2 separate regions of the Homo sapiens genome follow, and region 1 is linked to region 2. Evidence: fine-mapped expression QTL. A gene starts in region 2. The other region holds a variant in brackets. All regions are shown on one strand. Distances are between the middles of the regions.

Region 1 (5,363 bases), 390 kb after region 2:
GCAGGCACGGCGTCCCCCTCCCAGTCATCCCCTCCTTCCTCGGGTTTCCCTGGCACCCCACATCGCCCTACTCAACCCAGTTGAGGCCTCCCCACCACAAGAACCCAGGGGCCATGCCCTGCGCATACACCCGACCCACACTGGAGTTCCAGACTCGGGCCCACACTGGACTCTCCTTCAGTGGCTCCCCAACCTCAGTCCTACTCCAGGGAGACTCTTGTCATCCATTCACTCCCTAGGTTCGGGCCCTTCCAGTCACTACAGACACTGATAGCCTCCCTCTCACTTCTCAGCCCTGCTGTCTCCCAACACCAAAGCCAACAATGGCTCCACGGAACTAACTGTTAAGGACACATGCCGGGCCTCTCGGCAGCACCCCGCCCTGCTGACCACTCCTCCTCCTTCGCACACTTTTTTCTCTTGGCATTTCTTGACCTCACACACTCCCAGTTTCCCTCCAGTCTCTCAGGAACCTCCTCCCAACATGGAGAGTCGGTTCCTGGGGCTCCTTCTGTCCTGGCTCTGGCCTCCTGAGATTTGCTATTTCTCAGCCTGTAAGATTCCAACTTCAGATGTCCCCCGGAGTGCCAGGCAAATGTGTACGAGGCCTCTTTGACACCTCCCTGGATGCCTGCGCACACCTGGCTCAACAGATTTCTAACTGGACTCACCAACTCGCCTCCTCAAACCTGGTCCTCCTCTAGTACATGAATCTTAGAAATGGCACCCCCACCTACCCAGCCCCAGAGCCAGGAACCTGGAGCCTTGCACCTCCCCAATCCTACAGGTAGCCAGGCAGGCCTCTACTCTTTCTAATCTTATTTTTTTTTTTTTTTTTGAGATGGAGTCTCGCTTGGTCGCCTAGGCTGAAGTGCAGTGGCGCCATCTCATATCACTGCAACCTCTGCCTCCCGGGTTCAAGCAATTCTTATGCCTCAGCCTCCAGAGTAGCTGGGATTACAGGCTCCTGCCACCACACCCAGCTAATTTTTACAGTTTTAGTAGAGACGGGGTTTCACTATGTTGGCCAGGCTGGTCTCGAACTCCCGACCTCAAGTGATCTGCCCACCTTGGCCTCCCAAAGCGCTGGGATTATAGGCATGATCCACCGTGCCCGGCCTCTTTCTAACCTTCTAGTGATCTGCTCCCCTATCTTCCCCTACCCATACCCAGATTTGCGCCAATGCCATCACTCACCTGGACTGCAACAACCTGTCATTGGTTTCCTTCCAGCCCCCACTATGCACCCACACGGACCTTTCTGAAGCTTAAGTTTGATCACGTCATTGCTCTGATTAAAATTTGGCCAGGAGCAGTGGCTCATGCCTGTAATCCCAGCACTCTGGGAGGCCAAAACGGGCAAATCACTTGAGGTCAGGAGTTCAAGACCAGCCTGGCCAACATGTTTCGTGAAACCCCATCTCTACTAAAAATACAAAAAATTAGCCGGGCGTGGTGGTCCATGCCTGTAATCCCAAGCTATTCGGGAGGCTGAGACATGAGAATTGCTTCAACCCAGGAGGCAGAGGTTGCAGTGAGCCGAGATCACGCCACTGCACTCCAGCCTGGGTGGCAGAGTGAGACTCCGTTTCAAAAAAGTCCTCTCAGGGCCAGGCGCGGTGGCTCACGCCTATAATCCCAGCACTTTGGGAGGCTGAGGCGGGTGGATCATGAGGTCAGGAGGTCAAGACCATCCTGGCTAACACGGTGAAACCCCATCTCTACTAAAAATACAAAAAATTAGTCAGGTGTGGTGGCGCGTGCCTGTAGTCCCAGCTGCTCGGAAGGCTGAGGCAGGAGAATCATCTGAACCCGGGAGGCGGAAGTTGCAGTGAGCTGAGATTGTGCCACCGCACTCCAGTCTGGGCCACAGAGTCAGACACCATCTCAAAAAAAAAAACAAGTCCTCTCTCCCCAGCAAGCAAACCAGTAGGAGGGAGCACCTTACCAAGGATGGAGAATGTGCATGCACAGGGCATTTGGGCATTTAAACCGCCATCCTGGTGAGCCTGTTCCCAGAGCCATTGGCTCCACCGTGGTCATGAGGCTAGGGAACACGTACAGTGGGCCTTACAAGTACCTGTGAGTATAGGGGCAGGGGGGCAGGCTGGGCACAGGGGAAGTGCCCAGTGTCCATGGCTAACAGAAGAGGCAGGAGTACCACCTACTAAACAGGAGCACCCATTCGGAAGGGAATCCACTTGGGCGCCTCAAGGCAGATCACAGCTAATAAAAACAGGAGAACTTACTTAATACCTCTCCCATCCCCATCCCTGAGGCCTAGAACCTCCAGGAAATGATTGTAGAACCTCATGTCTGCGTGGATCTGAAATCTACTGCAGTCATGGGGGTGTAAGGACAGGTCACAGAGGACTACAGCAGCTGGACCAGGGGTATACAGGTCATGCCTCAGTTGCTAAGGGAGAGGTAGAAGCTGGCTTGGGTTCCAGGTTCTGGGGCCACTTCTACATCCTCTGTGCTGCAAATCAGGTAGTTGACAGCCCCAGCTTCTGCCAAAGCAGACTGTTACCCCAGACACACATGTAGACAATAGAAAGG[G/T]ATCACATCTTGCCACTTGGGAAGCCATCTTGTGCCTGCAATAGCCCTTTACCCAACTCCCCAGCCATCAAAGTCAGGCCTGGGCCAAGTCATTCCACCATGGGTGGAAGGAATATACAGGTTTGGAGCAGGGAAGGAGGTGGAGCAGGGAGAGATGACTCCTTGAGAAAACACACATGTACCCATCTTGCAAATGTAAGCTCCCTCACCAGCTCTGCTCCAGTTCCAGCCCAGCCCAGGATACCTCAGGACAGGGTCATATGTCTATCATTGACCCTCTGTCTCTAGGGCTATTTCCAAAAGGACTGTGTTGTGGAGTGGTCAGGGGGTATATCAAGAGGTCCTTCGTCATCCCACGAGCCCCAAAGCCAGCCAGGGTCAGAGCTCCTGCAGAACCCAGAGGTCCAAGCCCAGTACAGCACTGATTAGCCCCCACCCTGGTCACTACTTCATGTGCCGGACAGCCCTTCCCCAGAGCCTGCTCCAAGGCTGGCAACACCAGGCACTCCATCGAGACACCTGGATTCCCTGGCCCGCATGGCATAGGTGGTATGGTGCTGGCTGGACACTGAGGCCAGGTGGGAACAGACAGAAGGGACTGTGGGCTTGGTGGGGTAGGGGAGGGAGAGGAAAGGGTCCCAAGACCTCCTGCAGGCAGGTCTGGGCAGGATCCCTATCTGGTGCACCCCACCTCCTGGCCTGGCTACAGAGGAGCTGCTGAGGTCGACCACAACAGGTGCTGAGAACAGCTCAGCCAGACCATTCTGGCCACATCCAACTCTGTCGAACTTCCTGGCGGACCAACAGCTCCAAACAGGGATCCTGCGGGGTCCCAGAGACAATGAGCCCAGACACAGCATCTCCGACCTCCTGCCAGTGCCAGACTGACCCCACCACACTTCAGCTCGGGCTGCTTGCTGCCCACTCCTGCTGCTGCCCACACAGGTTGTAAGGCACACACCACCTGCTGTCCACTCCCACCCCCACACACTCCCGAGGCACACCTACACACACAGCCTGCTGCACATCACCTGCTGTGCACTCCACACACATGCACATGCATTGTCTGACATCAACACACATACACTATGTGCTGCATGTACAAGCACACAGCCTGCTGCACACCACCTGCTGTATGCACCACACACATGGCCTGCTGCACAAATATAGTGCCTGTTGCGTGTGCGCATGTACACACACACACACTGCCTGCTGCACACACACACGGCCTGATGCATACAAACACACAGTCTGCTGCACACCACCTGCTGTACACACCACAGCCTGCTGCATGCACACAAATGCACTGCCCACTGCATGCCACCTATTGTACACACACACACACACACACTGCCTGCTGCACACCATCTGCTGTACATACCATGCACACTGCTTGCTGTACACCCCTGCAAACTACCCGCTGCGCACACACACACTGCCTGATACATACACAGCCTGCTACACACCACCTGCTGGACACACACACATAAACACACTGCCTGACACATACACACAGCTTGCTACACACCACCTGCTGTACACACGCGCGCACACACACACACAGCCTGATACATACATAGCCTGCTACACACCACCTGCTGCACACCCCACAAACTACTCGCTGCACATAAAGATGCACACACACACCACACACTGCCTGATAAACACACTGCCTGCTGCACACCACCTGCTGTACAAACACACACACACACACACAGAGCCTGATACATACACACAGCCTGCCGCACACCACCTGCTGTACACCACACAAAGTACTCGCCGCATGCTGCACATAAACACACACCACACCCCGCCTGATACATACACACACTGCCTGCTGCACACCACCTGCTGTACACACACACACGCCTGCTGCACACAGTCTACTGCACACCTACTGCACACCCTTGCTGCACATAAACACACACACACTACCCGATATAAACACAGGTAGCCTGCCGCACGGCACACCGCACACATATACTGCCTGATAACACACACACACACTGCCTACTGCCCACACACTGCCTGATGCATATGCCTTGCTGTATACATAGCCCATAAGGTACTCACTACCTGCTTACCACCACACCACGCACTGCCTGACGCACACACGTGCACACAAACACTGCGCGCTGCATACACAGCCCATACAGCATGCAGTGCCTCCTGCACACACTGCCCCTTCCCCACTGCCTGATGGTAACGTGTGCGCTGACCGCTGCACACCCCGTTCTGTGCGCACAGCTTGCAAGGCAGCACCCCTGCTGCACACACTGCACCACACACTTCACACAAACACTGCCTTAAACATGGCACACAGGGCACCCACACCACACGAACAGTGCACGTTATCTGCCCTATCAATGACCCCAAGACAAGTAATGCTACCTGTACTCAGAACCCTTGGAGCTAAGCCCCCCAGGAGAAGTCCAAAACAGCTCATCTCTGCTCCACAGCTTCTTTCTTCTCCCCGCCTCCTTGTCCCTCCCAGAACCTACCCAAAGTCATCAGTGCCCTCCCCACACCACTGAATGTCTGGCGGCCTCCTGGGCTTTCCCGGCCAGTCCTTCCAGGCCTGAAATCTGCGGCCCCAGGTGAATCCATGACTTACAGACTGAGCTCCAAGACCTTCACTGCCCCTCAACCTCCTGGAGGGAAAGGCCAGGAATCCAGGCCTGCCTCCCTCCCCTCCCCCAGGGCTCCCCCTCCCTGGTGAGGGAAAATGTCAGATTCCCTGTCTCAGTGGCGGCAGCGGGCGGGTTGGAGGGGGAGTGATTCAGCCGCCGCCTCAAGAGTGCGGA
Region 2 (5,363 bases):
TGAGCAGGTGCTGGCCACTCTGGATCCTGCCAGAGCCCAGAACAGAGGCGTGACTTGGTCCTGCAAGGCTGCTCCCTCTCCCTGACTGGGGGGCTGAGCAGGGAGAGCTCAGCGCTCTGCAGTGTTTCCTGGGCCTGGGGTCCTGCTGATATCTTGAGAGCCTGAACCTTGCCCATGCTCTACCATATCCTCTTCTCCTTACAGCAAAACATTATGGGTTCAGAGAGGGAATCTCCACAGGAAAGCAAAAAAGAGGAGGCTGATCTCCCCAAAGGGGAGGCACTTGAGGGCAAGGCCCAGGTGGAAGGAACAGCTTCACAGGGATGAAGCTAAGTCTGAGAAGGGCATGGAACAGCTTGAGGGGACTTGACCCTCCCAGGCACAGCTGCTCCCATCAACTCCAACAGCTCCTTTCAGCTCCCCCAGGATCATCCCTAGGTCAGTCCAGATGCTGGCACCAAAGCCAGTGTGAAATCAGAGCAGGACTAAGACTTTTGCCAGGCAGCCCTGGGGCAGACATGCTGGAGGAGAGGGTGAGAACACTCCTCAGAGGGCACATGTCCAACCAATTGATCCAGAGAAGCCTTGGCCATAGCTGCAGCCCTGGCAAACACCTAGCTTAGTGCTCTCCACTAGCAGAATCCCCGGGGTCTCAATTCCAACGGGACTTTATGAAGTAAGAAAACAGTGAGATTTATCTCCCAATAGCACATGGAACAGTGCGCCACCATGCCAACACTGCCCTGCTCCAAGGGGCGGAAGAGTATGGCCAGGACCCTGACCCCTAAGCAGGCTCCATCCAAGTAAGCTTAGCTCTATTTGTACCCCTGACAGCCAGTTATGGCCATTGGCCCTTGTTTGGCCCCTCAGGGACGCCAAAGCAGGCAGAAGAGATGCATCCTCATTGTTTGTTATGGCAAACGGGGGTTAAGGATAACAAGTGAACATCATTCCCTGCTTTCAAGTAAGGGAGCCCCATCTCCCCATTCATCCCAGGGTGCATGCATTCCTGCATTTCAAGTTGTAGGGAGCAGATACAGAAAAGAACCAAAGAGGCAGTTCAGAAAGATGGGCTGGGCAGTCGGGGAGCCTGGGAGGGCCATGGCAGGGAGCTATGTGGGCAGGCGAGTAGGGAGGAGCCCTGTAAGGCTCCCAGCAGGGCCAGGACCCTTGGACTCAGCACAAAACAAAGGGAGACAGCCCCAGGCCTGCCTGCTCAGGACTGGTCTGGCTTCCATCCAATAAAGGAAGGACCCTTCTCCAAAGAGTCAAAACAACCCAGATTGTTTTAGTTCCAGATTATTTTCTGAGCCCTTGGCTCAACAAAACCAGGTCCAGGATGGTTTGGCATCAGTATAATTCCAGGAGACTGAGCTGCAGGTCTCCTGGGTTCCCAGTTTCCTACTGCACTGCTCATGCAGTTCCCATGGAGCTGGAACATAGCCAGTCTGGACGGAAGGCTAAGTCACAGCACCCTGAAGGGACCATCCCAAGACCCTAGAGTATCTATCCACAGGGGACCTGCCTGTAAGGAAAGACAAAAATAGCCCATTAGGGCACTGCAATACTGCCTGCCCAGAAAGAGAGCAAATGCCAGGTGCTCTGGGGGCACCATACCAGCGGGCACCCAGCCCAGGCCTGAGCTCTGCCATCAGTGACAGTCCCCAGAACTTCTGCTCTGTCACTGGAGTGCCCACCCCAGAGCCCTCATACCTTCTCCACGTTCTCCACAGTGAAGTCCAAGGCTGGTGCTGCTCCAGCCCCTGCAGCCCCCGGCTGCTCCTCCCGCCGCTCCATCTTTGCTCCCTCCCTGGCAGGGAGGTGGGCCCTGATCTGTCTCCTGCCCCAGCCCCTTGGCTGCTGGCCCCCTGCTAGACCCCGGCTTGGGTGCCCAGGGAGTGGTGGGGTGAGGGGGGGCCCAGGGCGGGCATGGCTGCCGAGGCCTCCCCACCTCGTTTGGGGGTGGGAGGCTTGCCAGAGACCAAAATTGGTGCTCTTAGGAGACCCAATGAAGGGGACTCCGAGGAGGGAGCCGTCAGTGAGGAGCTCTCAGGCGGGGATCCTAGTGGCAGGTAACAGCTCTGTCCCCAGAATCTGTGTGGAGGGAGTCACAGGGGAGGGAGGCCTGCGGGGGAAACCGAGTCCCTGGCTCTTGAGGGGTCACAGGGTCGATGGCCTGTACCCACAACACCCCCGCCTGGGTGAGCTCTCGGCTGCTATGAACAGGTCATGGGGCTGGAGGGTCACGGGAGAGAGAGAGCCCTTCGTGGTTACGGAGGCGTCCAACGAAGCGCGGAGATGCAGCTCCGCTAGTCTAGGGCGAAGAGTCCGTGGAGTTGAGGGGCTGTGGCAGGTCCCTTCCGTTCGGCCTGGCCCGCGCTGTGCTCAACGCCCGGCTACAGCCCCGCTACAGCCGCTGCCTCCGCCCCAGTGACTGACAAGACAAGCCAGGCCGGCCGGGACGGGGCAGGGACCTCGGCAAGGCGCGGGCTGCCCCGAGCGCCTGTCCCCGGCACCTCCAACTCAGGCCCCCACTCCTGCCAGTTCTGGCTCGGCACGGCCCGGTACAGGCCGGCACGGCCCAGCGGAACTGCGCGGAAACTCATTCCGGGTCCTTAGCCCTGTCCTCGCGCCAGCTCGCACTCCCCTGAGCAGGCGGTGGAGCGGCTCGCCGCCCCAGGCCGCGGCCGAGTCTAGGCCCCGCCGCTGTTCACCCTGGGAAATGTAGTCCGTGTTGCGCCTAGCCGGAAGGCGGCGCCCTGCGGAGGAGGCCGGGAGCACGTGGGTTGGGGACCTGCAGAGCCCCGCCTGTCCTCGGCCTACCGCGGCGAGCAGGCATTCCGGGTCAGACCGGCGCGGGGCGCTGCGGCCCAACTCCTTAGTAGGACGACGTGACTCGAGGGGCCGGAGGACGGAGGTGGGAGCCCGGGCTAGAGGGTGGAGGCTGGGGAGGTTGCCTGGTCACTCTGGCGCTCCGCTGCCGGGGGCATCCTCCGGCCCAGCAAAGGTGCAGCCTGGGAAGAAGGCGTCAGCACCACCCAGAGAAGAGGAGAGGGGACTTGGCACGCCTCAGGAAGGAAAAAAGGAAGGCTCTCGGGACCACCCAATAAGCAACCGGGAAACCACATACCATGGACAGTGCTCGGGGAATTTCGTAAGGTTTTTGGAAGTAACTTTATGTGTAACTAGAGTAAGAGTAGCTTACATTTAAGTGCTAGGAGCAGGACTTTGCTTACCTTAGGTTCAGTTTTCTTAATAGCTCTGAGGTGGATATTTTTATTCATCATTTTCAGATGAGATGAGGAAATCGAGCTTGGGGAAAGTTAGGCTTATCTTGCCCCTGGCACACAGACAGGGTGGCAGACCATGCCATAGATCTGGTCTGCCACAGGCCCCGGTAGTTCCTGCCTGTCACCCCTCCAGTTGTATTTTATTGTTTATTAACTCCTGCCAGCTACCCTAGCAGGGAAGAGGAAAAAATTAAAAGTGCAAAGAGCTCCGTAGTTTTGTTCAAATGGAGGAAGCTGGCATTGGAAGCTGGCATTGGCAGCAGCTGCTGAGGCCTGAGAAGGTCCATGAAGGCTTCCCTGAGAAGAGAAACTTGATCTGAGCTTGAAGAATAGAGAGCCTGGGAAGGAGAGGGGCCCATTTAGCTGGTAAGCAAAATCCAGTAGGACTCTAAGTCATTCAGCAAGTCTTCATCAATAAAGAATAGCAAGTAGGCCGGGCGCGGTGGCTCACGCCTGTAATCCCAGCACTATGGGAGGCTGAGGCGGGCGGATCACGAGGTCAGGAGATCGAGACCATCCTGGCTAACACGGTGAAACCCCGTCTCTACTAAAAATACAAAAAATTAGCCGGGCATGGTGGCAGGCACCTGTAGTCCCAGCTATTCGGGAGGCTGAGGCAGGAGAATGGCTTGAACACGGGAGGTGGAGCTTGCAGTGAGCTGAGATCACGCCACTGCACTCCAGCCTGGGCGACAGAGTGAGACTCCGTCTAAAAAAAAAAAAGAAAAGAAAAGAAAGAATAGTAAGTAATTTATATTCATTTTAAGAGAATATATGTGGGGTGGGGAAGGGGAAGGGTATGAGTAACAGAGATGAGGTTGGAAAGACAAGTTGGTGGCAATAGATTCTTGTAGGAGTTTGGACATTATCCTAAGTGCAATATGAAACCATGATGGGGTTTCAAGTGAGCAATGATGATTACATTTGCATTTTAGAAAAATCTGCAACATGAAAGACAAATTGAAGGAAGAAAGAGAGGCAGGAGACATTTGGAAGGAGGAAATAGAAAGCCAAAATAAAGTAACTGATTCCAGGCCTGTGCCTAGGGTGTGAAATACCTTGGGCCTGGTGCTGGCTGGCGGTTTCACTGGTGGAGGTGGTGGTGGGCAGGGGAGATGGTGTTGGGAGTGGGGTTTAAATGCACAAATTCTGGACTTAGTCCTGAGTTCAAAACCTGTTTATGCCTCTTTCTAGCAATGAGACCTTAGCTTCTTCTGAAACTCATTTTAGTTAAGGGGTTTTAGGGGTGGGGGGCTCAGCCCAGAGACCACAACTTAGTCAGTATGTGTTTTCTTCCTGCTTCCCATCCAGGGCTCCTCCTCATCCCTGGAGGTTCCAGGGATCTGGCAGAGAAAGAAGCCCAGTCTCACAGCAATGACTCCTGAACATCCTTTGCAAACACTATTTAGGACAGATGGACTGAAGTAGGCCCTGGGGAGAGTTGGGGGCATTTCCGGAGGCCAGACCAAAGGTGATCTCCAGGAGATTTGGATGTTAGTGCAGGATAGCTCAGAGCCAAGTGGCAGATAAGTCTTTGGGAGCCAGAAGGGCTCTTTCTTCTCTAAGGAACAAGTGTAGACCTATAGGGGCAAGAACCTGTGGCAACCCTGGGAGAGGTCTGCAGATTCAGGAGGGAACATCCCAAAACTCAGCAGAGGAGGAGAGGGAGCTTTTGTTGGTCACCTGGAACCACTACCAATCCATGTTCATGTCAAATTAAATGATCACTTTGAAGTTTTTCAGCCTACCAAAATCATGTGAATTTGGTCTGCAAAACCAGACGACTGCCTGCTTGCAGTTAAGAATTCTCAGCGGGAGGCCGGGCGCAGTGGCTCATGCCACCAGCACTTTGGGAGGCTGAGGTGGGTGGATCACGAGGTCAGGAGTTCGAGACCAGCCTGGCTAACACGGTGAAACCCTGTCTCTACTAAAAATACAAAAGTTAGCCTGGTGTGGTGGCGGGCACCTGTAGTCCCGGCTACTTGGGAAGCTGAGGCAGGAGAATCTCTTGGACCTGGAAGGTGGAGGTTGCAGTGAGCTGAGATCGCGCCATTGCACTCCAGCCTGGGCAAC

Which allele goes with the higher level. Alleles are on the strand shown, and positions count from the first base shown. SD is a standard deviation of normalised expression in the study named.
As copies of G replace T in region 1, the expression in unexposed skin of the gene that starts at base 2,448 in region 2 goes up (moderate effect, 0.52 SD a copy in GTEx).

Evidence for each region. PIP is the estimated chance that this variant, and not a neighbour inherited with it, causes the effect.
Region 1: its variant is the best candidate, but not a certain one, in a credible set for the expression of IPO13 in unexposed skin (GTEx, PIP 0.71).

Annotation. Positions count from the first base shown.
Region 1 is chr1:43,558,653-43,564,015 of GRCh38, reverse strand. All of the region lies in intron 5 of PTPRF (protein tyrosine phosphatase receptor type F), which reads right to left. Among named protein-coding and RNA genes, the nearest start is that of PTPRF, 30 kb to the right of the region's middle. RefSeq lists an enhancer at 2,773-3,350. The variant G/T (reference allele first, on the strand shown) is at 2,560.
Region 2 is chr1:43,944,035-43,949,397 of GRCh38, reverse strand. It overlaps IPO13 (importin 13), which reads right to left and starts at 2,448. Exons shown (of 20, transcript NM_014652.4): 1 at 1,714-2,448. The coding sequence starts at 1,797. It overlaps LOC101929609 (a long non-coding RNA gene), which reads left to right and starts at 2,799. Exons shown (of 2, transcript NR_188535.1): 1 at 2,799-2,917; 2 at 4,602-5,043. RefSeq lists a silencer at 2,403-2,652.